7 linked regions of the Homo sapiens genome follow. The protein of the gene in region 4 interacts with the protein of the main gene of each other region in a pairwise test. Each region holds a gene or a part of one and is shown on either strand. Other genes may lie near its edges.

Region 1 (4,090 bases), on a different chromosome or scaffold from region 4:
AACAAATATTTTTGATAACTGCCATTATAATATCATAGGAGTCTGACACTGTCATGTTAGGGCACAAACCACTCACTGTGGCAAATGGCTGTGCCTGTTTATAAATCTACACTATCCAGTAGGGTAGCTACTGGCCACATGTGACTGTGTATATTAAAATTAATTAAAATTAAAAATTCAGTTACGCAGTTGTAGTAGCAACACTTAGAGTGTTCAATAGCCATATGTGGCTAGAAGCTACCATATTAGTGCAGGTACAGAACATTTCCATTTGTGCAGATAGTTTAATTGGCTGCTGTAAATGATTAAATCTACCTCCCACCAGATCCAATTGCTAGAGGCCATGGGATATCCAGAGAGGAGAGAAATCATGAGGCATAGCAAAGGAAAGTGACTAAGGTCACTTTTTTAACCCCTAGCCAGGGTTAAAAAAGAGGAAATCCATCCTGGGCTTTGTGTTCAGCCAATCAGAGCAGCAAAGATGAGAGAGCTGCAGCTCATCCTATTGGATTCCATTACTGTGGCTTTGCATCAAGGCTTAAGAGTCAAGATGCACATTGCATAAAGTCACAGATGGTTCTCAAAAGATACTACTTTTGGTTTCTACTACCTGGCCCAAATTAATGAATACAGAAAAATAAATCTTATTTCAATATCAATAAAACCCCAAAGTCCACCTATAACTCCAAACTTCTCCCCAAAGAATTTCTAATTTCCAGCAATGCATGCTTCAAGAAACAAGGTATTTTCAATGTATTTATTGTATTACCCTCAAAATCTGTTGCATGGGAAACAGAACATTCGGTTTAGAAAGAAAATGTTTCAAGAGCTGCTTCTGTGGTAGAAAGTAAGTTTTATCTTTACAACCATATAGTTTAAACAACTCATAAACCTCAAAGCCTAGGGTTAGCCACAAAGATGCCTTTACTACAATGCAACTAAATCGATGTGTCAAAATTACAGGCAGGGAGTCCCATACCTCTCCCACATCGTATATAACAATCTGTCCTTCAGAATCACCCACAGCAATCTCTCTGCCAGAATGGGTCCATCTCACACGATTAAGAGCAGGATTACCCTCCACAGAAATGCTGGCAGTTGGTACCTAAAGTCATTTAAAATAAAGGACAGTGTTAAAAGTTTCATCAAGATTTCTATAAACATGTAAAACAGTAATTCTTCTCTCAAGCTGGCTACATTTTTAAAAACAAAGATGAAAACAGGTAAGAATTTCCCCAACTTTCTTCTTCTTCAGTGATATATTATGAATGACATTATAGTCGATCCTTGAAAATGGTTTGGGAAAATAAGTCTTTGTATAAAAAATTCTCAGAAGACTAGACACATTATTTTGAAAGGTCTTCTCTTGAATAAAGAATCCTTTTTTGTTGTTTTAATGTCTTTAAGAAGTCAAGCTGTTTGAAAACACATGGCCAAAACCCATTTAAAAAGAAAACACTTCAAAAGCCCTCATAAGCAGATTATGGTTCAGTTGTAAAGGACAAGAATCACTTGTGCAGCATGTATCTCTATCAGCTGAAACCTGTATTTGACTCAGTGTTCCTAGAAACGGTTCATACTGAAGGTGCAGTATGAGTCTGTCTAAAGCCTCTTGTTCCATGAGCTAGCTGGAGATAGCCAGGATGATGGCACCAACACAATGGCACCAGCTCCCTGGAATCTGACTGTGCCTCTTCTTTGCTAAGGAAGAAGAGTTTTATTTGCTACACATGGAGCAAACATTCAGTGTTTGGATTCAGACTAAAAGTATGATAAAATTTTTAAAAAATTTTGAAATTTGACAAAAAAATCCTTCTAATTTGTACTAGTCATCCCCAAATAATTTAACCCCATACACAGAATACCAAAATTGTTATAAAGAAATATTAAATTTCAATCCACATTTAATTGTAACTTCAAATCTCTAAGACTAAAATCCAAATTAAGAAAACAGAATTGGTACCATTCTAGCTAACTAGGAAGAGATGTGGGAGATCTGAGTTGACTCTCTCAACAATTGTTATTGACAGAAATGCTAATATTAATTATATTACTAATAGCAATATAGAATAGAATTCTAAGAACATTTTTAAGCTTCTCTAAGCTGGTAAAAATACATGTGACTAAAAATAAATAAGAGTTGCAATTAAATTTAATGGCTAATAAGTGATTTTAGTACAGCAATTAGGAAATCTGATAGTTTCTATATTCATTTTATAGTAACACTCTGTTTTCAATCCTTCATAGAAAAAACTCATCAAAAATCAAAATATATTTTTCCTTCCTTCAAACAAATCAGGCTAAGATTAATGTTTATGGATGATATACAATGCTATCAAGGCTAAGAGATAATTTAGAAATTCAGAATTAAGGTTAACATACTTCAACAGTCTGAAACTATCTGCTTTCTAGCTTATGAATGAAAAACATCCCAGTTATCTTATGAATGAGACTTTGCCAGGACATTAGAGACATGATAGTGCTTTTCAGAAGTAAAAGGAAATGCCCCAGTGCTCCTGGCAACATTATTTCTCCCTTTAGTTCTTCGCAGCATGCTGTTTATTATTTAGGGTACAAAGCTTATTTGAGTTCTTTGTGATGAATCTACAATCACAGAACCCTTTTACATTCTTTGGAAAAAAAGGAATTTCACAAATTATTCAATAAATATCCAATTTTCTATTTTTCAATGCAATTTTTGTTATTTTCCTGCTCACCTCTGTGTCATTATTGAGATTCCACAAATCCAATCTCCCCATGCCATCCACACAGGCAAACAGGGCTGGGTGGGTAGGTGACCACATAACATCATAAACATAGTCTGCATTATCTTCAAATGAATACAAAGGCTTGTTATTCTGAAAGAGAAAAGTTGATTCTTAGCACAGTCCATATATGACATACAAATCATTAAACTACTTATCACTGGGAAAAAAATGACATACATTCAACAGGTATGATAACATTTTATGATATTTAACTCAGCCTAGAAAAAGTTCCTACAATTTGTTTCACTACAGAATTACCTGGTATTGTAAACTAAGAATCAACTATTGATTGCATTTTCTTTTTAACTTGTAGATGCCATACTGTTTAAAAAAAGAAATAGAACATGCTTCAAGAACATCTGTCAATGAGAAGATTCTGGGAAGATAACAGCAATAGCAGTGTACTTTTTAAATCTCCTCTAGTTCTCCCCATAAACTCAGATAAAGCAATGAGGGCAGGAAGAGCAAAGATTCACAGACAGCATCTACAGCAGAATCAGGAGACAAACTTCCAAATAAAATCAGGTGGAAACAAACCTCTCACAACTACAAGACTTGCATGGTATCAGTATCTGTGTGGGAAGAAGATGAAGGAAGGCACGAGAACTTCTGACAGGTGGAGAACAGAACCTCACAGTCATAGCAGATGCTCACTGGACAGTGTGGTGGGCTAATCTGAGAACAGCAGCAAAAACTAGGGGGCAGTTTGGCACAATTCCATTTATAAATACATTTGACCCTTGAACCATATAGGTTTGAACTGCAGAGATCCACTTATACTCATATTTTCTTCTGCCTCTGCCACCCCTGGGACAGCACAACCAACCCTTCCTCTTTCTTTTCCTCCTCAGCCTACTCAACTGTGAAGATGATAAGGATGAAGACCTTTATGATGATCCACATCCACTTAATGCATAGTAAATATATTTTCTCTTCTTTATGATTTTCTTAACATCTTCATTTCTTTAGCTTGCCCTTAAGATGACAGTATATAATACATATAACATAAAAAATATGTGTTAATCAACAATTTATGTTGTCAGAAAGGTTTCTGGTCAGTAGTAGGCTATTAGTAGTTAAGTTTTTTGGAAGTCAGAAGTTATATGTGGATTTTGAACTGCTGGGATAGGCGTTGGCACCCCTAAGCCCTGCATTATTCAAGGGTCAACTGTAAATGCAAGCAGACTACAGTGCAGTATAAGTAAGTTCTCATGGTACAGTCTGGGTGCTATAAACTCTCAAAATTAACAAATCAAAGTTCCTTTCCAAGACAAAGTCTCACAGAAGAGAAACTGCTGGGAGTAGAATCCAAGTTGTAGAAT
Region 2 (4,090 bases), on a different chromosome or scaffold from region 4:
ACCTTGGCTTATTTGAAATGGTATTTTTCCTTTTTTTAAAAAACATGTAGGATTACTGTAGCTCTAGAGAAATTAAATTAAGTACAGAAATAATGAAAAACTAAAACAAAAACTAATTTGTGACCAACTAGAACACAGGCATAGCCATAGTTTTTAAATCAATACTCTTCTTTCACTCTTTTTTTTTTTTTAAAGATAGCTGAAATGCTACATAAGCCTGCCACCTTAGCTGGTGACTGTATTCTGAGATAAGAAGGGTAATTTGATTTACTAAATTTATAAGTCCAATTCATTAGATTTATAACAGCTGTGTTTATCAAGATTTTATTTACAAGATTTGTAAGTCTGCCCAGTTAGGTGTTTGGAATGTTTTAAAGAACTAAAGATATCAAATTTGTAATTATGTTTTATATAAAGAAATTTGATAAGCAGGTAGAATTAAATGTTTAAAATTTTTAATTAATTTATTTTTTTAGACAGAGTCTTGCTCTATTGCCCAGGCTGGAGTGCAGTGGTGCAATCTTGGCTCACTGCAACCTCTGTCTCCCGGGTTCAAGCGATTCTCCTGCTTCAGCTTCCCAAGTAGCTGGGACTATAGGCACGCACCACCATGCCTGGCTAATTTTTGAATTTTTAGTAGAGACAGGGTTTCACCATGTTGGCCAGGCTGGTCTCGAACTCCTGATATCAGGTGATTCACCCGCCTCCGCCTCCCAAAGTGCTAGGATTACAGGCTTGAGCCACTGCGCCCGGCCAAAATGTTTAAAAAATTTAATCTGTAAAATTTGAAGCTTAACTGAACATAAGTTAAAGAAAAAATACAAATGTTCTCACTTTTATACAAATATTTCTAGATGTATGGATGAAGTAAAAAGTTATGCTTAATGGCTTAAAAATTGGTTTTTAAATGAATAAACTTTAATAAATTCAACATTAATTAAAATATGAAAACTACAGTTAAAACTTGCTCAGACATTAAAAACCCAGTAACACATCACAATTTCCAAAGCACTTTCATGTATATTATACAATTTCATCATGAAGATGAAACTGTTCTCCTTCAGCTAAAAAAAGAGCAAGGTTGTGTCTTATTCATTTCTGTATCTCCAGCACCTATCACGCTGCCTGACACATAGGAAGGAGGCCGCCAACAAATCCTGTACTTAATGAACACACCCAATTTGTAGAACAGGAAATGGAGGTCCAGAGAGAGAAGGGACTTACTCAAGGTCACAGAGTTATTACAGGCAGGGCAGCAACCCCACTCAGATATCTCTCACACATAGAGCTCAGTGTTCCCACCATCGCCTGCTGACATCGCCATGGAAATAGTGTTGGCAGTGTTCCTGCCATCGCCATGGAAATAGCTGGCAGCACAAAATACTAAGTCTTGGGTATGAACATGGTCTTGAGGTAAGAGGCAAAGTAGGAAAAGGGAGCCCATTCCTGATGAGGTGCAGCTGTTGGGGTTAAGACTATGAATGGCTGATAAAGCTCAGAGACAGAAAATAAGTGACATGCACGCGAATGCACCAGAGAGAATGGAACACAAAGCAGAAAGTGGGGAACAGAAGCTGCTAAGAGTTTGGGAATAATTAAATATGAGACAAGAAAATCTAGGTGGAGATCCTTGTCTTCCCCATAGCACTGGTTTAAGAAAGTGACTTGGTCCCCAGATGCCTGAGGAACTGGTTAGGGAGGAGAGTGGGTTCAAAATATTCAATATCTGGCAGACTCATAAAAAGAATAGGGCTTGGCAATCAGCCAGTAAGTGCTTTGAAACACAGGACTCATGGCTACTGCATTCTTGACCCTCACTTATATGTCACTCCTCCACAGGCAAGCTTCTGCCACTGCCAGTGAGATCTTTAGAACATACTACCCTTTCTCTAGTCCTAGCTTAGAGAGAACAAGTTGATAAGCCATCAGTACCCTTCACGAAGACCTAGTTTTGAACATCATTATGGTTAACACAGCTGCTCAAAATCCTCTATAATTTGCACAAAGATCTATGAAAACAGAACATCTCCAGGGCATTTGCTCAAAATCACCACAAAAGTTGACTGTTCCTACCTCGGCTAGCATCTCTTGCAGGCTCACCAACCTATGCTAACTACAAAGCGTATAAAAAGGACATGTGCCTACATGTGTGCACAGAGATGAAACTCATTGAACAATAAATATCACTAAAAAGTGAGTTTGGAATTCACCTATTGTATGGTAAATACACCTGATGGCAACAACTTAAGCATACCCTGAGAATGATCCTGTATGGCAGACACACCTGAATATAGTTTGGAGTTCCAAGCAAAGGAATCCAGAAGTGGCCAACCTGGAGATCCATTCCTTATCCATTCCCCACCCCTTTCAGTGGAATGCGGGCCTTAAAGGGGATTGAGGCCCCTTGTTTTGGGTTAAATTAAGGCTGCCAGGTGGAGGTCATTAGGGAGAGGGTGTTAAGTGAAAATGCGACATAAACCGCATGCCTTTTGCAAGCAGTTGCAGCTCTCCTGTCCAGCCTGTGCCACTGGGCCATGTGGTTCTCCCGTGCCCAGTCCACTGCCTCTAGACTGTCTACCCTGTACATAAACACCTAGTAAAATTCTATGTTGTTTGCTGGCTCTGGGTCTCTTCTTCAGCCTCTTGAACCTGGTACCATATTGGTGTTGATCAGGTTTCAGCACAACACCTATGTTTGTCTAGTGTCTTGAGCCTGTGTGCAAAATAAGCCACTTCCCATGACAAATGCACAGGCATTTCAGCATTCCTCTTTCCAGCTTTCCTGGACACTTTCAATACCTCAGTACTCTGTTGGTCAACCTAGGAGACTGGATGCCCACCAGTCTCTGAAAAGATTTTGAGAAACCCCAATGGTCAGATTCAGAATCAGGGAACTGAACCATACCTAGAAAGTTCATGGTCCCATGAGTCTCCAGTATCTCACTCTTGGCCAGAGTCCCTGGTAATGAGTAGCTGCCAAGGGTTGAAGCAGCAGGTGCCTCCTGAGTTGCTTTCAGGACTACCGCCATATCCCAGGATATGTTCTGACCCTAGAGACAAGCAGGCACATGTTTAAGAGGGAACTGGTGGTAGGGGGTAGTGTGGTTACAATTTTGAGAATGAGAACATAATTATCTATTCCTGGAGGCCATAGAACAATTTTTAAAAACAGAAAAGGAAGCCAGAGTCTCCTCCAACCCCCAGGGTGAGTTGGGCAGAGAAACAAGCTAGCTACTTTCTTCCTTATTACTTTGATTGCACCTCACTGCTCACTCCAGAATCTAAACCTAGCTTACCAGTGAGTACATGATAAGAGGAGAGAGCATATGGGAAGAATTTTCAGAGTGAACTTTTGTGGGATCTAAAGATCAAAGCAGCAAGGTTTTGATGATATTATTACAGAAAGGCTCTGGGGGAACCTCTGCCCTCATTTGACTAGTAATGGTAAGGGGTGTGTTTGAAACATTAAGGACAGCACAGTGTACAGCCTCATGAATCAAAGTGTGGTGCAAAGATCAGCAGCAGTATCTGCATCACCTGGAAGCTTGCAAAACAAACAAACAAAGAACACAGAATCTCAGACCACCCCCAGACATCCTCAATCAGAATCTGAACTTTAACTGTTTTAACAAGAACCCCTAGGTGATTCCTATGCACATTAAAGTTTTAGAAGCTCTGGTTAGCATTGTCAAAACCTGACTGAAATTACCTGAAGAGTTTTAAAAAAACATGGATACCCAGGTCCCACCCTTAGATTCTTTTTTTTTTTTTTTTGAGGCAGGGTCTCACTCTATTGCCCAGGCTAGAGTGCAGTGGCATGAATTCGGCTCACTGCAACCTATGCCTCCAAGGCTCAATCAATCCTCCCACCTCAGCCTCCCAAGTAGCTGAGACTACAGGCACGTGCCACCATGCCAAGCTAATTTTTTGTATTTCGGCATTGCAAAACACGAGGTGTGCAATGTTGCTCAGGCTGGTCTTGAACTCCTGACCTCAAGTGATCCTCCCGCCTTGGCCTCCAAAGTGCTGGGATTACAGGTGTGAGCCACTGTGCCTGGACCACGGATTCTGATTTAATAGGAATAGAATA
Region 3 (4,090 bases), on a different chromosome or scaffold from region 4:
ATGCAGAAGAATGTCTGAGCTATCACTATTCCTTATGACTAACACTACATTAATATTACTTACAAGTAACTTCTGTTGAGCCACTCCGGGTCAGGCAGTGTGCTAGGCAGTTTCCTGCTATGTGATCACATTCCCAAACAACCCAGTCATGCAGAAACTATCATCACTATCTTTCAAATGTAGGCTAAGTGTATCAGATAAGTATATGTTCACTATACCCATAGGCTCTTCTCCTTGGGTATAAAAAAGCTAAACCACATTTCCCAGCCTGATACAACATGTAGCCTAATACCCAGTTCTTGTGGATGAAATGTTAATGGAAGTGACTACTGCCCTTCTCTCCCATTCCTCTTGGCCGGGGCAACCTTAAAGCTGCATATTGACAACAGAATGCATGTGATCCATAAATAAATACAGGGTACACAGCTTTCCTGCTGACCCACATTGGGCTATGGCATGGATAAAAAAACAAAACAAAACGAAACTTAATCTGTTGAGTCACATGATTTTGGAGTTTATTTTTCAGAGAAGGTCATTAACTCAGCCTAACTTATATACCAAAGGCACAGTGACGTCACACAACCTCTCCAGAGTCATGAGGCTAGTGAGTGGCAAATCATTAAAGCCTAGAATCTGTCTCCTACCTAACATATTCCAACCTGAATAAAGGCAAAGAGTGTGTGACAGAAGTGGGAAGACGGGGGACCATGGGGTCAAGGGCTCCATGACTGCTCAAGACCACAAAATAGCTGCCCATGGCATTTCAGACACAGTGATGCCTGGGTGGTCTGCAGGCTGCCCTGATACCCGCTGCCAGACTCTCAGTCACCAACCTGCGCAGGTGCTTTGGGAGAGGCCTCTCTTCACTGTCCACAGTTCCTGTCCATGTTCCAGTAGATAGATCAGCTCTGGTTTGGGAACAGGATGCCCTGTGCATGGAGAAACAAATGGAGTATGGTGTACAGGGAAAGACAAAAAGAAAAGTCTGAGGTGTAAAGGAGTACATATATTTAACATACTGCAATGAAACCCCAGAAAGGGCCCTCCCCTGCCTCACCAAAAGTATTCCCTAATTAACCTAAGTCAGTAGGATTCAACCACCCTGTGCATCAAAACTACCTAGCAACACCCAGTTCCAAAAACAGAACAAATTAAACCAAATCTCTGAGCAGAAGGACTGAGTGCTGGTAGTTTTTAAAGCTCCCCAGGTGATTTTGGTGCCCATGATGGTTGAAAAACACAGGACTAAATCGCCTGATGAATGGCATCTATTGATAGTCAGTTGTGTGAGGCAGGCCAGTGACTGAAGCTGAACATGGAGGCCTACTGCCCCACAAGGATACTGGCCAGGGCCCTAGACCAAGGAGAGAAAGCAGACAGAGAACTGGGTTAGCATGGATTGGCACTGACCAAGCCAGGAGTCAGCAGCACCTCAGGGCTTCTCATTAGGTAAAGTAAGAAATTATTTTCAGGGTGAAACTGGCAGGAGGTGGTCTTCTTCCACATGCAGCCACACACATTTTGCCAACTGTGAAGGCTAAGACAGAAGACTCTGGAGAGAAGTCAATGACTGAGGCACCAGGACCCAGAAGCATCAACTGGAAAATCTTGTCCTGGCACGCATCCAGCTGTCACTTAGCAAATGTTCACCATAGGATTACGCACACTTACATGCCACATGCACACTCAGCAAATGTTCTGCCATATGCTTGGCACTGAGCTGGGTGATGAGCAGCATTAAAGGGGAATCAGGCCTGCCTTCATCTCTGTTAAGGAATCAAGCACCCTGCTCCCACAGGGATGCTGCTCATGTTGGTCCCTCCTCCTGGAATGCTGTTCCCCATACATCTCCTTTCGACAACTAATCACAGTTGTCATAAAATAACACCACGTTTACTTCATTAATGACTCATCCCTCGTGAGGACGCAGGACTGGGAGAGCCCTGTCGATGGTAACCATTTGAACAACTGGAATAAGTGAGACTTTGGGCCTCCATTCATATCTACTCAGACCAACTTCTGGGCAAACTGTCCATTAAAGGTTTAGGTGGGAGAGCATTTGGTATTTATTAATTTGTTAAATGTAACAAACACATGCAGAACACTTGCTATGTTTCCAGCTCTATTCTAAGCACTTTACACATATTAGTTACCTTGCTGTGACAGGTTACTATAAAAATGGCAAAATCAAAATGATAACAGGTCCCAGCAAGTTCCTGCTGCCTGCTTGAGGCTAGGAGTTTGAGGCTACTCTTTCTACTGAGGAGGAAATTCACCAACAGCTATGGGAGTGTTAAAGATTCAGCCCTAAGCCAACACTCAACATTCAAGAGACAGGAAAGAGAAAAGAAAAAAAGAACAGCTTTCTCAGATAGCATACATCCATGCCATTTGAGAATGTGTCTGTGCTCCCTTTCCATAATCATAATCATCTCCTGTAGCAGCAGAGGAGCAAGGCACAGGCCTTAGGAAGTAAGGGTTAACTGTGCAGGTGCTAGGAGCCAAAGAGACCTTTCAGCTGAGACTGTGTTGCTGAAAAAGATATAAGCAGCACTGATAACAAACACCTTCTTAGTGTCTGTGTCAATCACCCGCTGCTTGTAGAACCTCCCATTATCCACAGGTCCTGCTAACTGGGCTGTGAGGACATTTGACTCAACCAAGCTGGGCCAATTACCTCTTGTGGCAGTCTGGGATAAAGATGTCAGACTGAGGCCAGCTGTGCTAGACAGTGGGATAAAAGTGTTGAGGAGGACTGTGTTTCTTACATAACAATCTTTGATTGAGACACAGGGAAACCCAGCAAGAGGAGGTCAGACCACAACGTGCTGAGGCTGCAGGGATCAGGGAAGGTTGGGTTCTGAGGCTCCTGGACCAGCCATGCCTAGAAAGGGTGGATTCAAAGAGGCTGTGGGTCCCCTACATGGGAGGGTAATGAGGTCTTACCCAGTGAGACCAGGAGCCTGCAGGTCTCCAGCATCACCTCCTGGTACAGGGTCCTCTGGGCCAGGTCCAGGTGCCCCCATTCCTCTCCAGTGAAGGTCACAACCACGTCTTCAAATGATACTAATGCCTGGGAAGTCAAACAGAGGTGACAGGTGGCTGTGGAGCTATTAGGTGAAATTACAGCTCACTTCTTGGTTACTGGCAAAGGGTCCAGAGACCCTGAACCACTGAGCAACTCCTGAGAACCACTGGGCTCTGTGGAGGCAGATGGTGCCGCTGACAGAATACAAAGATGTGGGACAGAAAAGCCTCCTATGTTGGAAACCATTGGAAAATGATACAAGACAATGATAATCCCATCTGACTGTGAGGAGCAGACAGTAATGTCCTAGGACATTACAAGAATGGGGAAAAATAATAATTCAAACAATAATCACAGCAGCAGCAGCTGAGCCTCACTGGTCTGCACTGTTTGCCTGCACCTGAGGGCTTCACATGCTGTGTTCAAGCAACTAAAAGTCTCCAGGTCTGGAATCAGGCTCCTGAAGTTTAAATCCAGCCTCTTGAACCAACCTGCCAGATGTGTGACCTTGGAGAAGTCTCTTAATTTCTTGGAGCTCCAATTTCCACATCAATACATTAATAGTTCCCACTTCACCGAACTGTTGTGAAAATTAATGAGAAAATGTTCATAAAGCAAACACTGCAGTGCCCAGCATGTGTTACAATGTGTGTAAATTTCAATAGTCATCCTATAGCCCATGATGTAAATGTCATCATCTCCATTTCACAATCAGCAAATTGAGGCTCAGAGTCAAGTCACTCAGAGTTGTATGTCTAATGAGCAGAAGCAGGATTTGAACCCACATCCCTCGGGTCCAGGATCTATGGGTGTAACCCCTGTACTCCTCCATCACCACAGTGAATCCACAGTGACAAGGGCTAAAAATACTTCCTACAATTTTTACAGTTAAAACAATTTCAGCCACTCCTGAAAATATTGCCAGAGGTATGGAAGGAAGAGCAGAGCCTTCCTTTGCCTCATAGAAGAGGCACCTGAAGAGGTGCCAACTGCCTAGGGCTTGGGAGAGCTCAAACAAAGTTTCCCTGCCCTCAGGCAGCTGGGACTTGTAGACTCCCTGGA
Region 4 (4,090 bases):
TGCAGGGCAAGAGTCAGCAGAGCACAGCCATACTCACTGTGCCCACCCCGGTTGAAGCAGCCCCTCCATGAGGCCCTTCTGCCCCCACCCCAGATGCCTCCCCGGGCAGTGTTTACCTGGGTGACACTGTGGGAGGTCTGAAACCGAAGCACCTCATTCTGAGCACACTTGAGCTCCCTCTGCAGCCGCCTCTGCTCCTCCTCACTGACCTGGCGATGATGCTGTAGCTCTTCCAACTCACAACACAATTCCTGACACTATGTGGGAAATGGAACAGGGAGGCTTGTTTACTACAGATACCACATATGCTCCAAGAACAAGCTTGGGGAAAGCATGGCGCTCTTTGACTGGAAGATTTACATCAGGCAAGTGAGACCCCAGAGTACTATCTCCCTCCACAGTGGATGCCTATGGAGATGTTTCTACCACAGGCTGGGAGAAGGTGAAAGAAAGACAAGAAATGTGCCTGCCTTCCCCACCCTCTGTGCCCTACCTTGTTCTTCATGCCATGCATCTGCTCTTCAGCATCCCGTAGCTGCTGCCGTAACAACTGCATTTCAGGATCAGGCTCTAAGAAATCCATTTCTGAAGTCTGAGACTCTGCTGACGTCATACTCAGTGTTTGGGACTGCAGCCATCTCTCTGTTGCTCTCTGTGTCCTGCAATTCAGAACCGCAGAGCTATGCTTGAAGGGAGTTCTGCCTGGCATCACCAGCCATGCAGGCTTTGTCCTGATACCTTCATTTTAGGCCAAAGATAGTAAGGGGCCTTCTATTGTGACTCACCGCTCAGATAAACATGCTTAAAAGACTACAGAAAGTCTCCAGCCCCTCAATCTGCAAAGGTGTGTTTGGCTCTGGGAGACCCTTAGAGTGCCAGTCCAGTTAGTTTTGAGGCTAGGCCTAGTCAAGCCCACTCCAATCTGGAAGCATTGTGCCTGCCATTAGACTGAAACAAGTCTATGCAGACAATAAAAGAATCTCTTCTGATCCACTTTAGGGCAGAGCAAACCAGAACCCAGTGCCTAGAGCAGAAGTAAACTTCAGAACTCACTCCCTCTAGTCTTGAGATAATTGGGTCGGATCCCCATGTCTGCTTGTAGGTGGTATCTGTATCCTTTGGAAACCATGGAAAGGACTGGGTCTCCAGGAGCAAAGGAACGCTCACTGCCCTGGCATCTGCCTTCAGGGAAAGCCCAAGGTAAGGCAGAGTCCTGTGGAACCCCATGACCTCTCACTCTCCAGAGACAGCTGTACCTCTCACTCTCCAGATCTGCAAGCTGCCCCGTGAGGCTGCTGTTGCTCTCCTGCAGGGCCCGGTATTCCTCATTCAGGAAATGGTAGCGTTCCCGCAGCTCCTGCAGTTCTTCTGCAGAGGACAGGCAGAGAGAGATGAGACCGGGAGGAAAGGAAAGCACTGATGACCAGCCCCCAGTTTTCCTGTCTTGAAACCTGAGAGCAGAAGGTTAAAGAGCTTCTCTTTTTCTAAAGACAGAAAAAAGGTAGAGGCTTAGAAGACAGGGCCCAGGAAATTCCACAGTGCAGTGAGTCTTTCTCCTCTTCCCAATAGCTGTCCTTCTTCTCATCTGCCCTGAAGATTTACCCTGTGTGCTCATCTTCAAAGCCTCAACCGAAGCAGACTCTTGAACTTTTAGCAATTTTTGAAAGTTTAATTAACTTTCAAATTTTTACTGTATGTAAAAACTTTCAAAAGTTTACTGTATGTAAAATTTCCATTCAACTGTTTATGATTACCTTCCAATTATGCTTTTAGTACAAAAAGCTGAGAGATGTGAACTGTCAGATGTGACTGCCAGTACCTGCCTTTCAGGCATTCTGAGTTTCCTTTTATGTTCTTTATTCCCACACCAAATACATTGGTCTGGATGTGGTAAAGAATTCTTGCCAGGTGTAGTGGCTCAAGCCTGTAATCCCAACACTTTGGGAGGCCGAGGTGGGCAGATCACTTGAGGTCAGGAGTTTGAGACCAGCCTGGCCAATATGGCAAAACCCCTGTCTCTACTAAAAATACAAAAAGTAACCAGGCGTGGCGGTGCATGCCTGTAGTCCCAGCTACTCAGGAGGTTGAAGTAGGAGAATTGCTTAAACCCTGGAGGCAGAGGTTACAGTGAGCCAAGACTGTGCCACTGCACTCCAGCCTGGGTGACAGAGTGAGACTCTGTCTCAAAAAAAAAAAAAAAAAGGAATTCTTTCTAATGGCCTTTTATCTGCTGACAGGCCCATCCTAACCAGACTCACATATCATCCTCAAGCATTAGAAGAGATCCGGTTGAAATACTCCAGCACATGTCTCTAAGCACCAGTCACCTATACCTATACTTTTTCCTTTTTGGTTTTGTTTTGTTTTGAGATAGTCTTACTCTGCCATCCAGACCAGAGTGCAGTGGCACAGTCATGGCTCACTGCATCCTTGACCTCCCTGGACTCAGGTGATCCTCCCACCTCGGCCTCCCAAGTACCTGTGACTACAGGCACACACCACCAAGCCTGGCTAATTTTTGAATTTTTTTGTAAAGATGGGGTTCCGCCACATTGCCCAGGCTGGTTTCAAATTCCTGGGCTCAAGTGATCCACCTGCCTCGGCCTCCCAAAGTGGTGGGAGTACAGGCATGAGTCACCATGCCCACTTTTAAGGCTGTGATGATACAAACACCTGTATCTGTTTTGTTGCTTCATGACTAAGAATTATGTTGGCCGGGTGCAGTGGTTTACACCTGTGATCCCAACATTTTGGAAGGCCAAGGTAGAAGGATCATTAGAGCCCAGGAGTTCGAGACCAGCCTGGGTAACAGAGCAAGACTCTGTGTCCACTAGCAAAAAATTGAAAAAGAATTATGTCTCTTAGAACATTAATTCTACTGATATTTAAAGAACACTAACTTGCTCTAATTAGAACACAAGACCTATCTTACCTGCTGGAAGATTCAACACCCTAAAAGTAACTTCTAATGTTTCCTCTTAATTCTAATCAGAATTCCTTAGAATACTGCAGATTACCATATAAGGGAGGAAGGAAACTAATCTTTAATGAAAACTAACCATGCGCTAAGCATTAGACTTGATAGTTTCAGCCTCAGATTTGGTAAGTGTGCAAGTGATTTCAACATGCTTCACATTTCATTTAATTCCCAAAATAGCTCTGTAAGGTTTTTTTCTTCTTTAAATAAACTTTGAATTTTAGAATAGTTTTAGATTTACAAAAAAGTTGCAAAGGTAGTACGGAGTTTCCTGGGAGGGTTCTCACCCAATTTCCCTAATTGTCAACATCTTACATTACCATGATATACCTGTCATGACTAAGGAATCAAATATTGATACATTACTATTAACTAAACTCCATAGTTTACTTGGATTTCTCTACATTTTCCCTAAGGTCCTTTTCCTGTTTCAGGATCCCATCTAGCTATAAGGTTTTATTAACCAATTTTGATTTCATATCCTGGATATAGAAACAGGCTCAGAGAAAGACCATAACCAGACCTCCTACGTTCATCCTGCTAATTAGTGGAGCTGAGATACTGAACTCAGGTCTGTTTGACTCCAGCCCAAGCCTTCCCACTGTGCCAACCTTCTTCTCCCAGCACCATTTAATCTAAAGGCTCTTCTGAGAGGCTTGATACAGCTGGAAAAACTTGCAGTTCTTTGATTCCTTGTTGATTGCCTCTGCTTGACCTGGCCAAATATAGGACCTCCATTATACTCAGATTATAAATCTAGCCTCAGAATAAAGGCAAACTCTCTGATGTCATGAATCCTAGCAACTAGCTGGGAGACTCACTGTCTGAAAGCAGGGCTCTAGGCTTTTGGGTACCTCATGTATCACTCAGAATAACTTTTCTTCTCTAGCTGTCTTTTGTTCCGATTTGTTGCCCCCCAAAGCTTCTATTTTGAGGAGAGCTAATGGAACCTAAGAATTAGCATCCCTGCACCTGGAAGCAGGGCCAGAGGCCCCCTATAAAGCATTCCAGGCAAAGCACCATGATGCCAGGGCAGCAGGAAGAGTTTCCCAAGGTGACAGGTCCCTCTTTGCCCATCCTAGAGCTGGAAATTTTCCCAGGAAGGGTTTTCCC
Region 5 (4,090 bases), on a different chromosome or scaffold from region 4:
TTTAGCCACACCTTACTTTCATCATAGTTAAAAAGGAGTTATCACTAGCATTTCACTAATGCTATAAAATTATGAAGTAGACTGATGAGTTTTAAGTTTAGTTCTTTTCCCAGCTACCCTCTTGTGGAGATACTAAAGAGAAATTGCAAGAAACAACTGTGAAGAAATAGCCAGATCCACTGTCTTTTATCTTCTAGGTAATTAAGAGCTCAATCAATTAGCTCTTTTAAAAAACATGAAACAGGAGCTTCCTTGTTTTCTGCCAAACCCTCCAGTGGCTTTATAATAGGAGGGAGTAGATTCAACTGGATTAATTCTACAGTATTTTGTAATAAACTCATATTTTGCACATGTCATCTCTAATATGGAGAGTAAATTTTAAGCAAGCACATAATTGAATCTCATAAATCTCATACTTACTTGAATACTACATGAAACAAAACCAAAAAAACCCTCCAAAATGTTACTGTTAAAATAAAGGAAGGGGGTGGGGAGGAGTTCAAGTATGCCAGAGCTTACAGCAGATTAACTATTTTATGAGAACTTCTGGCACTCTCAGAAAGTAAAAGCCACTGTGGACTGGAGCTAAAATAAATCTTTCCAACCTAAACACTGCACAACAGCTTTTCTAAATAGAGGTGAAAAATTCAGATCTGGACCACTAGTCTTAAGAACAGAAACAAGGCTGGATGAATTGAAGATCCTGTCCTGGAGCAGCAAAGCATAATGCTTTAGATATGCTCTGGAGCCAGAGTGACAAGGTTAAAATTCCAGCTCCACCATATGAGAGCTGTGTGACTTTAAGCAAGTCATTAATCTCTTTGTGTCTCTATTTACACCTCCGAAAATGGGCAGAAGATCAGTACTGAGCTTATTAAAGGCTGTTGCAAAATTAAATGAACTAATATTTAAGGCATACAGTACAGTGCTTAGCACATGATAAATTTTAATTAGCCATACTTCTCCTCCTTTTCCAAGGAATCCACTTCAAATTGACATACCAAAAGGGGTTATCCATCCGGCGAAACTAAAACCATTTGTTTGGGGTAAGTGCCAATAAATGACAAGCATAGAACAAAACTTTAGAAATTTCTGATATTCAATTTGATAATTTGTTCATTCAGCACTAACTTCTTCAAACTTACAAGTGTACAAGGGAGGTTGCTGGCATGGGGAAACTGCAGAATAATGAACCAATCCCTTAAAATAATTTTTCTTGCATCTCCAGTTCAAGTCCCTTCAAGTAATCTTCAATTACTTATTAAAAGATTTACTCTTTCCCAATTTCATCCCAATTCAACATTTCTAACAATTTATAACATAATAAATTATTAGTCTCCTATTATTGCCTTAACATAACTCACTGTTTCCTAATAGTAATAATTTCTATGTACAACTCAATTATCCTCAGAAATTTAAGTTAATCTACAGAAAACAGTAGGAAAAAATGCGAATTTTTTCAACTCTACCATTTTTTAAGGTAACACTTCTTTCATTTTTTTAAAATTATATTTTATTTAACAATCTAGGAAGTTCACAGCCATCAGCAGTTCTATAGCAACTTCAGGTGCAACTGGGAATTCAGGAATCTCGGTGGAGCTGTTGGTGTAGCGAATACTTTTGATAGCACATGTGAAGGTATCTCTCTCAAATTGACCTCATTGGTTTCATTCTCAGCAAATTGACCTGGGCCACTCAACATGGCTTTTATCGTGCTGATGTTAATGTACGTTCTGTTTTTACAATAAATTCATGGCCATCGGATGATATCAATTTGACATACATGGCATCAGGGCCTTCACAGCTACCATAGGTTTTCTCCTCTCTCCATCCATTTTGTTCTTACGAAATTCTACTTTGCTTCCCCAGGAACTTCAGTAGTTTCCCGGTGAAGCAAGGATGCAGAGTGTGTTGCTCAGACGGAAGTCTGGAGGAAGTCGAAGGTAACATTTATTTCTGACCAATCTATAGTGGGCTTTTCTTTACAGGTACAGAGTACATTCCTTTTATTAGTCTTTCTGTTATTCCATTCCCTATAAAATGACTATGTCTTAAAATCAGAAAACATAATAAAAGTACAATACTGAAATACAAGGAACTATTTTCAAAGCACTGATAGTGCATTCCACAAACCACATAAAAATCTTTATTGAAGGTATTACAGAAAGATAGCTGACTACTAGTATACTATAAATATTTATAAAACTTAAATTCCACTCATACTGAAGACAGTATTAGGTGGTTTTATAAATGACATGCTTTATTATTTCAATCATCCTTCCTCTGTTCTCTTACCTATTTCACACTGCTTACCTCACCAACAAGCATTTCATATATAAGCACGCCAAGGCCCCACCAATCTACAGCCCTTGTATAAGAAGTTTCTGTTAATACTTCTGGGGCAAGAAATTCAGGAGTGCCACAAAATGTGCTTGTTCTATCTCCATATCCCATTCCTGGAAAAGATAAAATGTAAACATTTGTTAGCAAAGAAAACAAATCTAGCATAAAAAAAAAATCAAAGCTATCTTTGGGAGGCAAAATTAAAGTTGCACATTTGTGCATGGTGAACAAATTCAGACATATCTAAGACATTTCAAGAAAACAGTAAGGACTGGTATAGCAAAAACTGCAATAGCAACTATACTGTCTAATTAATGGGTAAATAGAAATAAGATATCCATGTTTCTTTTCAGTTACTTTTTCTTCTTGTCATTACAAGGGAGCTAAGAAATTATAACAAAATGAACTGATTGTGAAGTTCCATTATCTTTCCAATTCAATCTTAAATAAGTTTATTTACTTCATTATAAAATCAACATTCTAAAAAAAATAAGTTTCAAAAATACCAAAAAGCAAACCCTTGGATAATCAGAAGCTGACCAAATGTGTCATATAATACAGAGAGATAGGGCCGTGTGCAGTGGCTCATGCTTGTAATCACGGCACTTTGGGAGGCCGAGGCGGGTGGATCACCTGAGGTCAGGAGTTCAAGACCAGCCTGGCCAACATGATGAAACCCGTCTCTACAAAAAAAACAAAAACAAAAATTAGCCGGGCATGGTGGCTCCCGCCTGTAATCTCAGCTACTCGGGAGGTTGAGGCAGGAGAACTGCTTGAACTTGGGAGACGGAGGCTGCAGTGAGCTGAGATTGTGTCATTGCACTCCAGCCTGGGTGACAAGAGCAAAACTCTGTCTCAAAAAACAAACAAACAAAAAACATATATATATCTCAATATATATTATATATAGAGAGAGAGAGAGGAGGGGACGGGAGGGGAGGGGAGAAGAGGGGAGGGAAGGGAAGGGAAGGGAAGGGAAGGGGAGGGAAGGGAGAGTACAGGTTGAACATCCCTAATCCAAAAATCCAAAATCTAAAATGCTTCAAAATCTGAAACTTTTTGGGCACCAACATGATGCCATAGAGAATTCCGCAAGTACTTAAGATTAGTTTCATGCACAAAATTATTAAAAATATTATATAAATTTACCTTCAGGCTATGTATAAGGTATATATGAAACATATATAAATTTTGTGTTTAGACTTGGGTCTTGGCCTCAAGATATGTCATTATTTATATATGCAAATATTCCAAAATCCAAATAAATCTGAAATTCAAAACATTTCTCATTCTAAGCATTTTGGATAAGGGATACTCAGCCTGTATTAACATTTTGGCTAACTAGTTTTTAAATATATGTTCCTCATAATTTATTAATATGTTAATCAAATATATAGTCTACATATTGAAGATATTATCTCTATGTATTCCAAAGTGTTAAAAACTTGTCATAAGTGTCATCTTTTTAAGAATTTTAAAGAAAAGCTCTCAATCCTAAATTAAGAATAATTAGGTATGCATATATAGTGACTATAAAATAGAAATGAATGTGTGTCTATGAACCAAGACCTGAAGGGCACAATTAGATACATTAGCACACTGGAGTGGAGAAATTTTTTTTTGGCAAAATTTCTTTAACACTATCATAATGATTTTTATTTTCTTCAATAAAATATTATTTAAAAAAACAGTGATATAGTATTAATATCTATGTAAGTTCTGCACCAGCCTTTTAGTAACTTGGAGA
Region 6 (4,090 bases), on a different chromosome or scaffold from region 4:
CTAAATAGCAACTAAAATATAATCATATTTTAATAAAACTTTTAAAATAAAGTATTTCTAGCTCAATGAATTATTTGAAAATAAACACTCCCCTTTAACTGCCACCCAGGTCAAGAAACAGAGTATTACCAACTCAGAAATATCTCTAAAACCCCCACTATGATTCCCCCAAAAGTAAACATTATCTTATGACTCCATTTTAACACCTCTTTTTATCTAATCCCTCTCCTGTTTAGATGCACAGAATGTTGAGAATGTGGTCACCTATTGTTAATAATGCTTATTTCATCTCTGTACTTTTAATGCATTGCTTGAATGTTTAAATAATGAAAATGTATCACTGTTTATATATCTACCCTGTGTACATACCTGCCTGTTGTTTTTCTTATTTTATTTTTTTCTTTTTGAGACAGGGTCTTGCTCTGCTGCCCAGGCTGGAATGCAGTGGTGTGGTCACAGCTCACTGAAGCTCCTGGGCTCAAGTGATCCTCCTGCCTCAGCCTACTAAGTAGCTAAGATCACAGGCATGCACCACCACTCCAGGCTAATTTTCTATTTTTAGCAGAGACAAGGTCTCACTATGTTTCCCAGGGTGGTCTCAAACTCTGGCACTCACATGAGCCTCCCAAAGTGCTGGGATTATGGGTGTGAGCCACCGAACCCAGTCCTGTTCTTTTTAGAAAGATAAGGACAGGATGACTATATAAAAAAGGTTTTTTCTTTTTTTTTTTTGAGATGAAGTCTTACTCTGTCACCCAGGCTGGAGCGCAGTGGCGTGATCTTGGCTCACTGCAATTGAACCAAATAGATCAATATGTTAACAGTGGTTCATGGTGGATAATGGGAATATGCATGGATGGTTATTTTCTTTTCCACTCTGTGTTTTCTAAATTTGAAATTATTAAATTACGGACACAATATGGACTCTGAAGCCAGAATGTCCAAGTTCAAATCCTGACTCTGTAATTGCTGTGTAACCTTGCCCTCTCTACATCAGCTTCCCAACAATAAATAAATATAGTAGCTACTCCAGAGTTGTTATGGGCAGTAAATTATTCAATACCCCTAAAGTATCCAGAACTGCGCCTGGCACAACATAAACATTCACTATGTGTTGGCTCTTATTATTTCCCTTTATATGCATTCGTTTTTCTCCTATCTTCCTAGAACAAGAATGTGCAGGTGTATACAGAGGCAAATTTTAAGGAGTACGATGCTTTGACTAGTGCAATATGCTTGACAATTCTAGCAGACTTCTTTAAATATAGGGGCTTCCTTGACAAAGAATAAAGACTTCACCAATACACATACACACACACGGCCTTCTAATCAATTACCAACACACACACAGACATACATACAAGTGTACTTCTAGCCAACTGAAAGTAAGCTTTTCCACTTACCCCAGAAAATTCCGTATGCTCTCCAGTAGAATTTACGGCTGGGGAGCAGTGACTTGAATGCAAGTATTCTTTTCCTATGGGGCAGGGTGCTCGAGGCTCTGAAGGGTGGTAGGGTGGATGTAAAGGAATAGCTGCTCGGATAGGCTCCCCTAGCTTCCTAGCATTTGGAATCCCACTCACAGAAAGGGTTTCCGCTAGTAAGACAAATTAAAGTGGATATTACGATGCAATTCTAAGAAATAAACCATTTTATATACATACATACATACCTATATAAACATGTTCACATACATTAGAAATATTTTTTAAACTTAAGACAAAGCACATAAAAAAATAATTAAACCAGGGATATAGCCTCAGCACACAGGGATCTAATTAAATTAGGATGTAATTTTTTTTTTTTAATTTTTAAAAAAAGTAGAGATGAGGTCTCGCTATGTTGCCCAGGCTGGTCTCCAACTCCTGGGCTCAAGTGATCCTCCTGCCTCGGCCTCCCAAAGTGCTGGGATTACAAGTGTGAACTACCATGACTGGCCCCGGATGTAATTTTAATGTTATTATCATAAAACTGTTCCCTGAAAGTTACTTTAAAAACTGGAAGCAACTTAAATGGCTTGAAGAATGTTATGTTATGTGAATTATGGTTCGTCCACGTTACAAAACCAGTTAGGCAGTAATATTTTTATGTATTACTACCATATGAAAATTCCAGAGATGATAATAAGAAACAAGAATGATTTTTCCAGGCCGGGTGCGGGAGCTCACGCTTGTAATCTCAGCAATTTGGGAGGCTGAGGCAGGCGGATCACGAGGTCATGAGTTCGAGACCAGCCTGGCCAACATGGTGAAACCCCATCTCTACTAAAAATAAGTTAGCTGGGCGTGGTAGCAAGCGCCTATAATCCCAGCTACTTGGGAGGCTGAGGCAGGAGAATCGCTTGAACCCAGGAGGCGGAGGTTGCAGTGAGCCGAGATCATGCCACTGCACTCCAGCCTGGGCAACAGAGCTAGACTCTGTCTCGAAACAATAAAAAAAGAATGTTTTTCCAGTTACTATACTTTGTTATTTACCAATAATATGAAGACCACCAATAGATGTACTAATGTGTCAGAGACTCTGTCCCATTAAAAAAAAAAGGTAAGTGGTGAGAATTTAGATAATAAAATAGTGGATGCAAAAATATGCAACCAAAGACCATGTTAAGCAGAATTCAGATACCATAATTAATAGCAAACATTTACAAGTAAGATCATGTAAGACCAAAAAGGATCTCATATACAGCAATAAAAGTAAAAAGGCTAATGGCAACAACAATTGCCCCAAGAATGATCATCAGCAGTAAAGAACTAACATCCATTACAACTCACTGTCTTCAACAAAGGATGTCCTACTCTTGGACAAAACACTAGGAGGGTACAACATATCTTCATGTGATTTAGAACTTGGTGAGGCTAAGGCTTTTTTAGACAGCATTTCATTAGGACATTGAGCACCTAGGAAAGAAAATATTAAAGGTAAAATTTTTAACTATCAAAATAGTTTGCTGAACATTATACTAAAAGCCAAGAGTTTTGTACTCAGGAAACAAATATTAAATAATGTTGAACGAAATAATGTTGGTCCAACTGCTCAAAATACCAATTATTATTTTTCTTTTTCAGACAGCATTTCCCTCTTGTCGCCAGGCTGCAGTGCAATGGCGTGATCTCGCTGCACTGCAACCTCCACCTTCCAGGTTCAAGCAATTCTCCTGCCTCAGCCTCCAGAGTAGCTGGGACTACAGGCACCCGCCACCATGCCTGGCTAATTTTTTGTATTGTGACAGGGTTTCACTATGTTGGCCAGGCTGGTCTCGAACTCCTACCTCAGGTGATCCGCCCACCTCAGCCTCCCAAAGTACTGGGATTACAGGCGTGAGCCACTGTGACGGGCCATAATATCAATTATTTTTAATTGCTATCAGAAAGTAAGATGCCATTTTGTAATCCAGAATCATTTATACAATTTAAAAGCAAAGTTTCATACAATGTTTCATTATTTAGCTTTAGAAAAATAGATGCCAGAGTTACGGAAATGCTGGCTGTTTTATGGACATGTCTTGGTATGAATAGACACCAGAGTTAGGGTCTTAGCTAGTACCAGAAACATGGACTCATGGTCCAGGCCAAGCGCAGTGGCTCATACCTGTAATCTCAGTACTTTGGGAGGCCAAGGCAGGCAGATCACTTGAGGTTATTAGTTCAAGACCAGCTTAGCCAATATGGCGAAACCCCATCTCTACTAAAAATACAAAAATCAGCTGGGCATGTGGCACATACTTGTAATCCCAGCCGCTTGAGAGGCTGAGGCAGAGGTTGCAGTGAGCCGAGATTGCGCCACCGCACTCCACCCTGGGTGACAGAGCAAGACCTAGTGTCAAAAAAAAAAAAAAAAAAAGACTATGGTCCATATATTGAAGCTTAAATTAGATGCCTGTGAATGTATATGACAGTTATCTGACACTTTAAATCTCAATATGAAAGGAAGCTGCCATAAGCCCTTTTATCACATCAAACCCAAACACCTTGGCCAGGCATCTCTCTGAATCTTTTTTCCTTTGCCTTAATTGCATTACTCTTAAACACAATTCCCCTCTCTACTTATAATGTTAAAATAAGTAATTCATTTTACAGTAACATCTTTTTTA
Region 7 (4,869 bases), on a different chromosome or scaffold from region 4:
CAAGAAATGGAAAGGAAGAAACTCTTAATAATAAATCATGCTCCGTCACCTATAGAATCTTCTCCAGTTTTATGGCATTGAATCAGACATTGGGTGTCAGATTGATACCAATGCCAAGCTCTTCAACAGTTATACTTGCTTTAAGATACTTAGCAATTCACTAACTTCTCTGAAATTTAGCGTTTCTACATCTAAAGTAGAAATATTACTACCATGAGAATGTTAAATGTAGCTTTTCCATGAGGACACAGCTTCTCCATTGGTGGCTGGAATTTTGTTTTTCCTGTCAAACCAGTGGTACCACAGCATCTGGACTAGGGCTGTAACTGAGAACCACCATTTTTCTAAGAGACAGCTTATTTATTTCTCTCTCTTTTCTCATTCCCTTAGTTCCCCACTTCCTATGTAGCCCTTTAAAAATGCAAATATAGACTTTTACCTCCCCTTCACCAGACACTTCCTACAGGGAAAGTTCATCTAACTGTGTGCTCCAAGCCAGAACTCTCCTCCAGAATTAACAGTCAATTTACAAACTAAAGCATGCTGGCCTCTGAACTCTCACTCACCAGGAGGTTGCCTGAAGAGACAACAGTTGAAAGCGTGCCTGCTACTCTCTCCCTTCTGGTTACAACTTATTTCTGCCCATGAAAAAGCCAGCTCAACTGCCTAATAGATAAGGCACCAAGCCAGCACACAGACCCCTTCCCTCTTCCTCCCCTACCTTTTAAAAGTGCCTGCTTTCTGCTCTAAAAGCCAAGCCGTGCACTTAAAGACAACACCTGTGCTACTTCCCCTACGCTAGCTCTAGAATAAATCACTTTCTTTATACCAGATCTCCCTCTTGTTAACTGGACGTTGCAAACGGGAAGCCACTGATCTACTTTTCAGTTACAGGGGCTGATGCTTTCCTGGCTTCTCATTGCCCCTCCCAACCCATTCTACCTGGCTCATTCTTTAAACCAGTGGTCCCCAACCGTTTTAGCACCATGGACCGGTTTTGTGGAAGACAATTTTTCCACGGACTGGGGAATGGTTTCGGGATGAAACTGTTCCACCTCAGCCATTAGATTCTCATAAGGAGCGCCTGACCTAGATCCTTCGCACGCACAGTTCACAATAGGATCCGCGCTCCTATGAGAATGTAATGCTGGGCTGATCTCACAGGAGGTGGAGCTCAGGCCATAATGCTCCCTCACCTGCCGCTCACTTCCTGCTGTGCCGCCCGGTTCCTAACAGTCAGTGGACCGGTACAGGTCTGTGGCCCTGGAGTTGGATATCCTTGCTTTAAACCCTGAGCCTCCTTTCAGCCATCTGACGGCTCAACAGTCACTCTATCTAGCTCCTTGAATATTGTATCTCCTCGCTTGTTCCCTGTCCAAGAACACTCCTGTCAATCATGGGAGACATTTAGACTTCATAAATTCTTTCTATTCAATATTTTCGCTCGAGGACTCTGGGAAGGACAACTGTCAGGGTAACAGTCTGCATTCCCCACCAGGAACCTGGGGCTATGAAATTCGTTCCCCGTGGGTGTTGCGGGAAGTGTAATCGAGGAGCACCATGTAGTCGCAACACTTGAGCCTAAAGGGTGAGGTGATGGACATTTTCCTTTTGCATCTGAGGCTCTGCAGTCCAGACACCTTGCGGGATTCCTGATACTTCAGCTCAGGTAGGCGTTTCCGGAGAATTCTGGGAAGAGTAGTCCATTTTACGGGAAGTGTAGTCCACTGGCTCGTGGAACACTGGGTATTTTGGCTCTGGCAGGTGAACCGTTGAATTCTGGGAACGATAGTCCAGACACTCTGCGGAGTCCCGGGCCCTTTGGCTCAGGGGGGCGGGTCCGGGGAATTCTGGGGAGTGGAGTCCAGACACTCTGGCGCAGAGAGGACACTTCCGGTCTCCTAGTCTGAGGTTCCTGCTTTAATGACCGGGGTAGTTTGAGCCATTTCTGCGTCTTGCAGGACATTTTGAACGAACCCCCTTTGCTTGAGGCTCGCAACCACCCGATGATCGATGATCGTCTCAGGGGAAAAGAAGCCTTGGCGAAGAGCAGAGGTTTAGAGGTGCGAGGGCGGGGAGGGTGTTTATTGTTCCCGTCAGCGGAGCCTTCTGGCGTCGGGGGGCTTTGCTCGCCTCCCGGGGGGTGGGATTGGGGTGGCCTTGTGTGCCCTGCTCTGAGGGTTTCCAGGACTTTGACCTCGCTCAGTCCGCCTCCCTACGTATGCAGTGTGTACACTCTTTCTCGCAGTGTGATGTGGAATGTTAATGTCTCTGTACTTCCCATTGCTGTTCTTTAAAATGGTGCTTATAGGGTCATCCTAATAGAATTGTTTTGCGAATTGAAAGAGATAATACAAATGAAAGCCTTAAAGTTGTCCCTGTCACTTGGTGAGTGGTCTCTTGTTGCCTGATATTTTAAAACGTTTGATATCATTTCAAAGCTATAGAAAAATTGCAAAAACAGTATAAGAAATTCTCATATACCCTTTACCCAAATTTGCCAAGTGTTTACATTTTTCCTGTTTGCTTTGTTGATGACCATCAACCAAATACCACCAGGAACATACCTGTAACCAGAGACAGCTGATTGGTAGCTTTCTGCAGCAAGGAAGCCCACATACCACGGTAATTGTGGGGTGTCTTGGTAAGAGGCATTTAGGAAGGGCTGGTTATAGGGTTTCACATAACATGGTAGATAATATTGGATATTATGTTAAATAATACTGTTACCGATTACATGTCAGATAGATGTGTTAAAAGAATACTAGTATTTGTAGTGTACTTACTAGATAGTGTTGGATAGCATATTACCTAGCATCATGTTATCTAATCTGCAGTTCCATATACGAATTTGTTAAATTTTTCATTTAAAGTCCTTATGACTGTCCTCTGCCCCACCCTTCACCTATTCAAAGTCCAGTTTATGCGTTGTCTTTAGCTGTCACATTTCCATAGTTGTTCATTTGGAGTTTGATATTGAAGGGGGCCTGCCTCTCCACACCTGTGGGTGTTTCTCACAAGGTGGAAATGAGAAACTGAGAAAAGAAATAAGACACAGACACAAAGTATAGAGGAAGAAAAGTGGGCCCAGGGGACCGGCGCTCAGCAAATGAGGACCTGTACCGGCACTGGTCTCTGAGTTCCCTCAGTATTTATTGATCACTATCTCTACTATCTTGGTGAGGGGGATGTGGAAGGACTATAGGGTAATGGTGGGGAGAGGGTCAGCCGGAAAACATGTGAGCAAAGGACTCTGTCATAAATAAGTTTAAGGAAAGGAGTTGTGCCTGGATGTGCACATAGGCCAGATTTATGTGTGACTTTACACAAACATCTCAGTGCAGTAAAGACCAGTATTGCCGCCAGTATGTCTCACCTCCAGCCATAAGGCGGTTTTCTCCTATCTCAGTAAATAGAATGTACGATTGGGTTTTATACCGAGACATTCCATTCCCAGGGATGAGCAGGAGACAGATGCCTTCCTCTTACCTCAACTGCAAAGAGGCCTTCCTCTTTCACTAATCCTCCTCAGCACAGACCCCTTATGGGTGTCGGGCTGGGGGACGGTCAGGTCTTTCCCTTCCCACGAGGCCATCTCTCAGGCTGTCTCAGTGGGTGGAAACCTTGGACAATGCCCAGGCTTTCTTGGGCAGAGGTCCCTGTGGCCTTCCGCAGTGTATGGTGTCCCTGGTTAATCGAGACTGGAGAATGGCAATGACTTTTACCAAGCATACTGCCTGCAAACACATTTTTACCAAAGCACATCCTGCACAGCCCTAAATCCATTAAACCTTGAGTCAATACAACACATGTTTCTGCGAGCACAGGGTTGGGGCTAGGGTTACAGATTAACAGCATCTCAAGGCAGAAGAATTTTTCTTAGTACAGATCAAAATGGAGTTTCTCATGTCTTCCTTTTTCTACGTAGACACAGTAACAGCCTGATCTCTTTTTCTTTCCCCTACAGATATATTTCACATTTAGGTTTAGATTATACATTGTTGGTGGGGATTCCACAGGAGTGTTAAGATGCCCTTTTCTTTTTTTTTTTTTTTGTTTGAGACAGTTTTGCTCTTGTCACCCAGGCTGGGGTACAATGGTGCAATAGGATGCCCTTTTCATTGTAACATAACAAGGTCCAAGTGATGTTCGTTTGTCCCTTCATTGGTGATCTCAGCTTTGTCACTGGCCAAGAAGATGTCTTTCAGATTTTTCCACTCTTATGTTACTTTTTTTTAAATTATGAAGTTTCTTATGGGAAAATACATTATTAGTGGGCATTTTCTTGTAAAAAAGAGCTTCCATTTCTCCTCTATTGGTTCATTGATTTGTTCAACTATAAATATTCTATCAATGTGGACTCAGAATCCAGTCTTATTGATTCTAATGATATGTGCATTAACAGTTTTTTTTTTAAACTCTAGGTTTATTTTAGTTATAGCATTCACCCATTTCAGGTATACAAGTCAGTTCAGTGGTCTTTAGGAACTTTGAAGTGGGGTAATCATCATCATAATTCAGCCGAGATCACTTTCATCCCCCAGTTGGACTCCTCATGCCCATTTACTTTGAACCTCATTCTCAACTCAAATTTAGAACAACTGCTAACCTACTTTCTATTCTATTCTACTTGTCTATTCCAGACATTTCATATAAATGGAATCGTAGGGTCTGTGGGTTTTTGTGACTTGCTTCTTTCATTTACTGTAATGTTTTCAAGGTTCACGGGTGTTGTTGCATGGGTCAGTATTTCATTCCTTTACATTTCCAAATAAGATTCCATTGTATGAATATGCCACAATTTTTCTGTCCCTTTACCTGTAGGAGAGCTTTTTGGTTGTGTGCAATTTGGGGTTAGTATGAATAATG

Evidence for each region.
Region 1: the proteins of CCDC136 (region 4) and DYNC1I2 interact in a two-hybrid assay, tested with the Homo sapiens proteins (one large-scale study listed by BioGRID).
Region 2: the proteins of CCDC136 (region 4) and ZNF35 interact in a two-hybrid assay, tested with the Homo sapiens proteins (one large-scale study listed by BioGRID).
Region 3: the proteins of CCDC136 (region 4) and ZNF599 interact in a two-hybrid assay, tested with the Homo sapiens proteins (one large-scale study listed by BioGRID).
Region 5: the proteins of CCDC136 (region 4) and PKN2 interact in a two-hybrid assay, tested with the Homo sapiens proteins (one large-scale study listed by BioGRID and IntAct).
Region 6: the proteins of CCDC136 (region 4) and CEP95 interact in a two-hybrid assay, tested with the Homo sapiens proteins (one large-scale study listed by BioGRID).
Region 7: the proteins of CCDC136 (region 4) and ZNF223 interact in a two-hybrid assay, tested with the Homo sapiens proteins (one large-scale study listed by BioGRID).

What each region holds. Positions count from the first base shown.
Region 1 is NC_000002.12:171,742,817-171,746,906, reverse strand, and holds part of DYNC1I2 (cytoplasmic dynein 1 intermediate chain 2), read right to left. Parts: intron 2,859-4,090; coding exon 2,718-2,858; intron 1,106-2,717; coding exon 980-1,105; intron 1-979. UniProt on the Homo sapiens protein: Acts as one of several non-catalytic accessory components of the cytoplasmic dynein 1 complex that are thought to be involved in linking dynein to cargos and to adapter proteins that regulate dynein function.
Region 2 is NC_000003.12:44,651,517-44,655,606, reverse strand, and holds part of ZNF35 (zinc finger protein 35), read right to left. Parts: intron 3,051-4,090; coding exon 2,906-3,050; intron 1-2,905. UniProt on the Homo sapiens protein: May be involved in transcriptional regulation. Involved in cell differentiation and/or proliferation.
Region 3 is NC_000019.10:34,766,483-34,770,572, forward strand, and holds part of ZNF599 (zinc finger protein 599), read right to left. Parts: intron 3,074-4,090; coding exon 2,947-3,073; intron 930-2,946; coding exon 834-929; intron 1-833. UniProt on the Homo sapiens protein: May be involved in transcriptional regulation.
Region 4 is NC_000007.14:128,801,928-128,806,017, reverse strand, and holds part of CCDC136 (coiled-coil domain-containing protein 136), read right to left. Parts: intron 1,369-4,090; coding exon 1,257-1,368; intron 660-1,256; coding exon 494-659; intron 258-493; coding exon 117-257; intron 1-116. UniProt on the Homo sapiens protein: May play a role in acrosome formation in spermatogenesis and in fertilization.
Region 5 is NC_000001.11:88,826,847-88,830,936, reverse strand, and holds part of PKN2 (serine/threonine-protein kinase N2), read right to left. Parts: intron 2,457-4,090; coding exon 2,314-2,456; intron 1-2,313. UniProt on the Homo sapiens protein: PKC-related serine/threonine-protein kinase and Rho/Rac effector protein that participates in specific signal transduction responses in the cell.
Region 6 is NC_000017.11:64,520,209-64,524,298, reverse strand, and holds part of CEP95 (centrosomal protein of 95 kDa), read right to left. Parts: intron 2,898-4,090; coding exon 2,772-2,897; coding exon of another isoform or gene 2,756-2,771; intron 1,598-2,755; coding exon 1,404-1,597; intron 1-1,403.
Region 7 is NC_000019.10:44,050,133-44,055,001, forward strand, and holds the start of ZNF223 (zinc finger protein 223), read left to right. Parts: upstream 1-1,903; 5' UTR 1,904-2,063; exon of another isoform or gene 2,064-2,625; intron 2,626-4,869. UniProt on the Homo sapiens protein: May be involved in transcriptional regulation.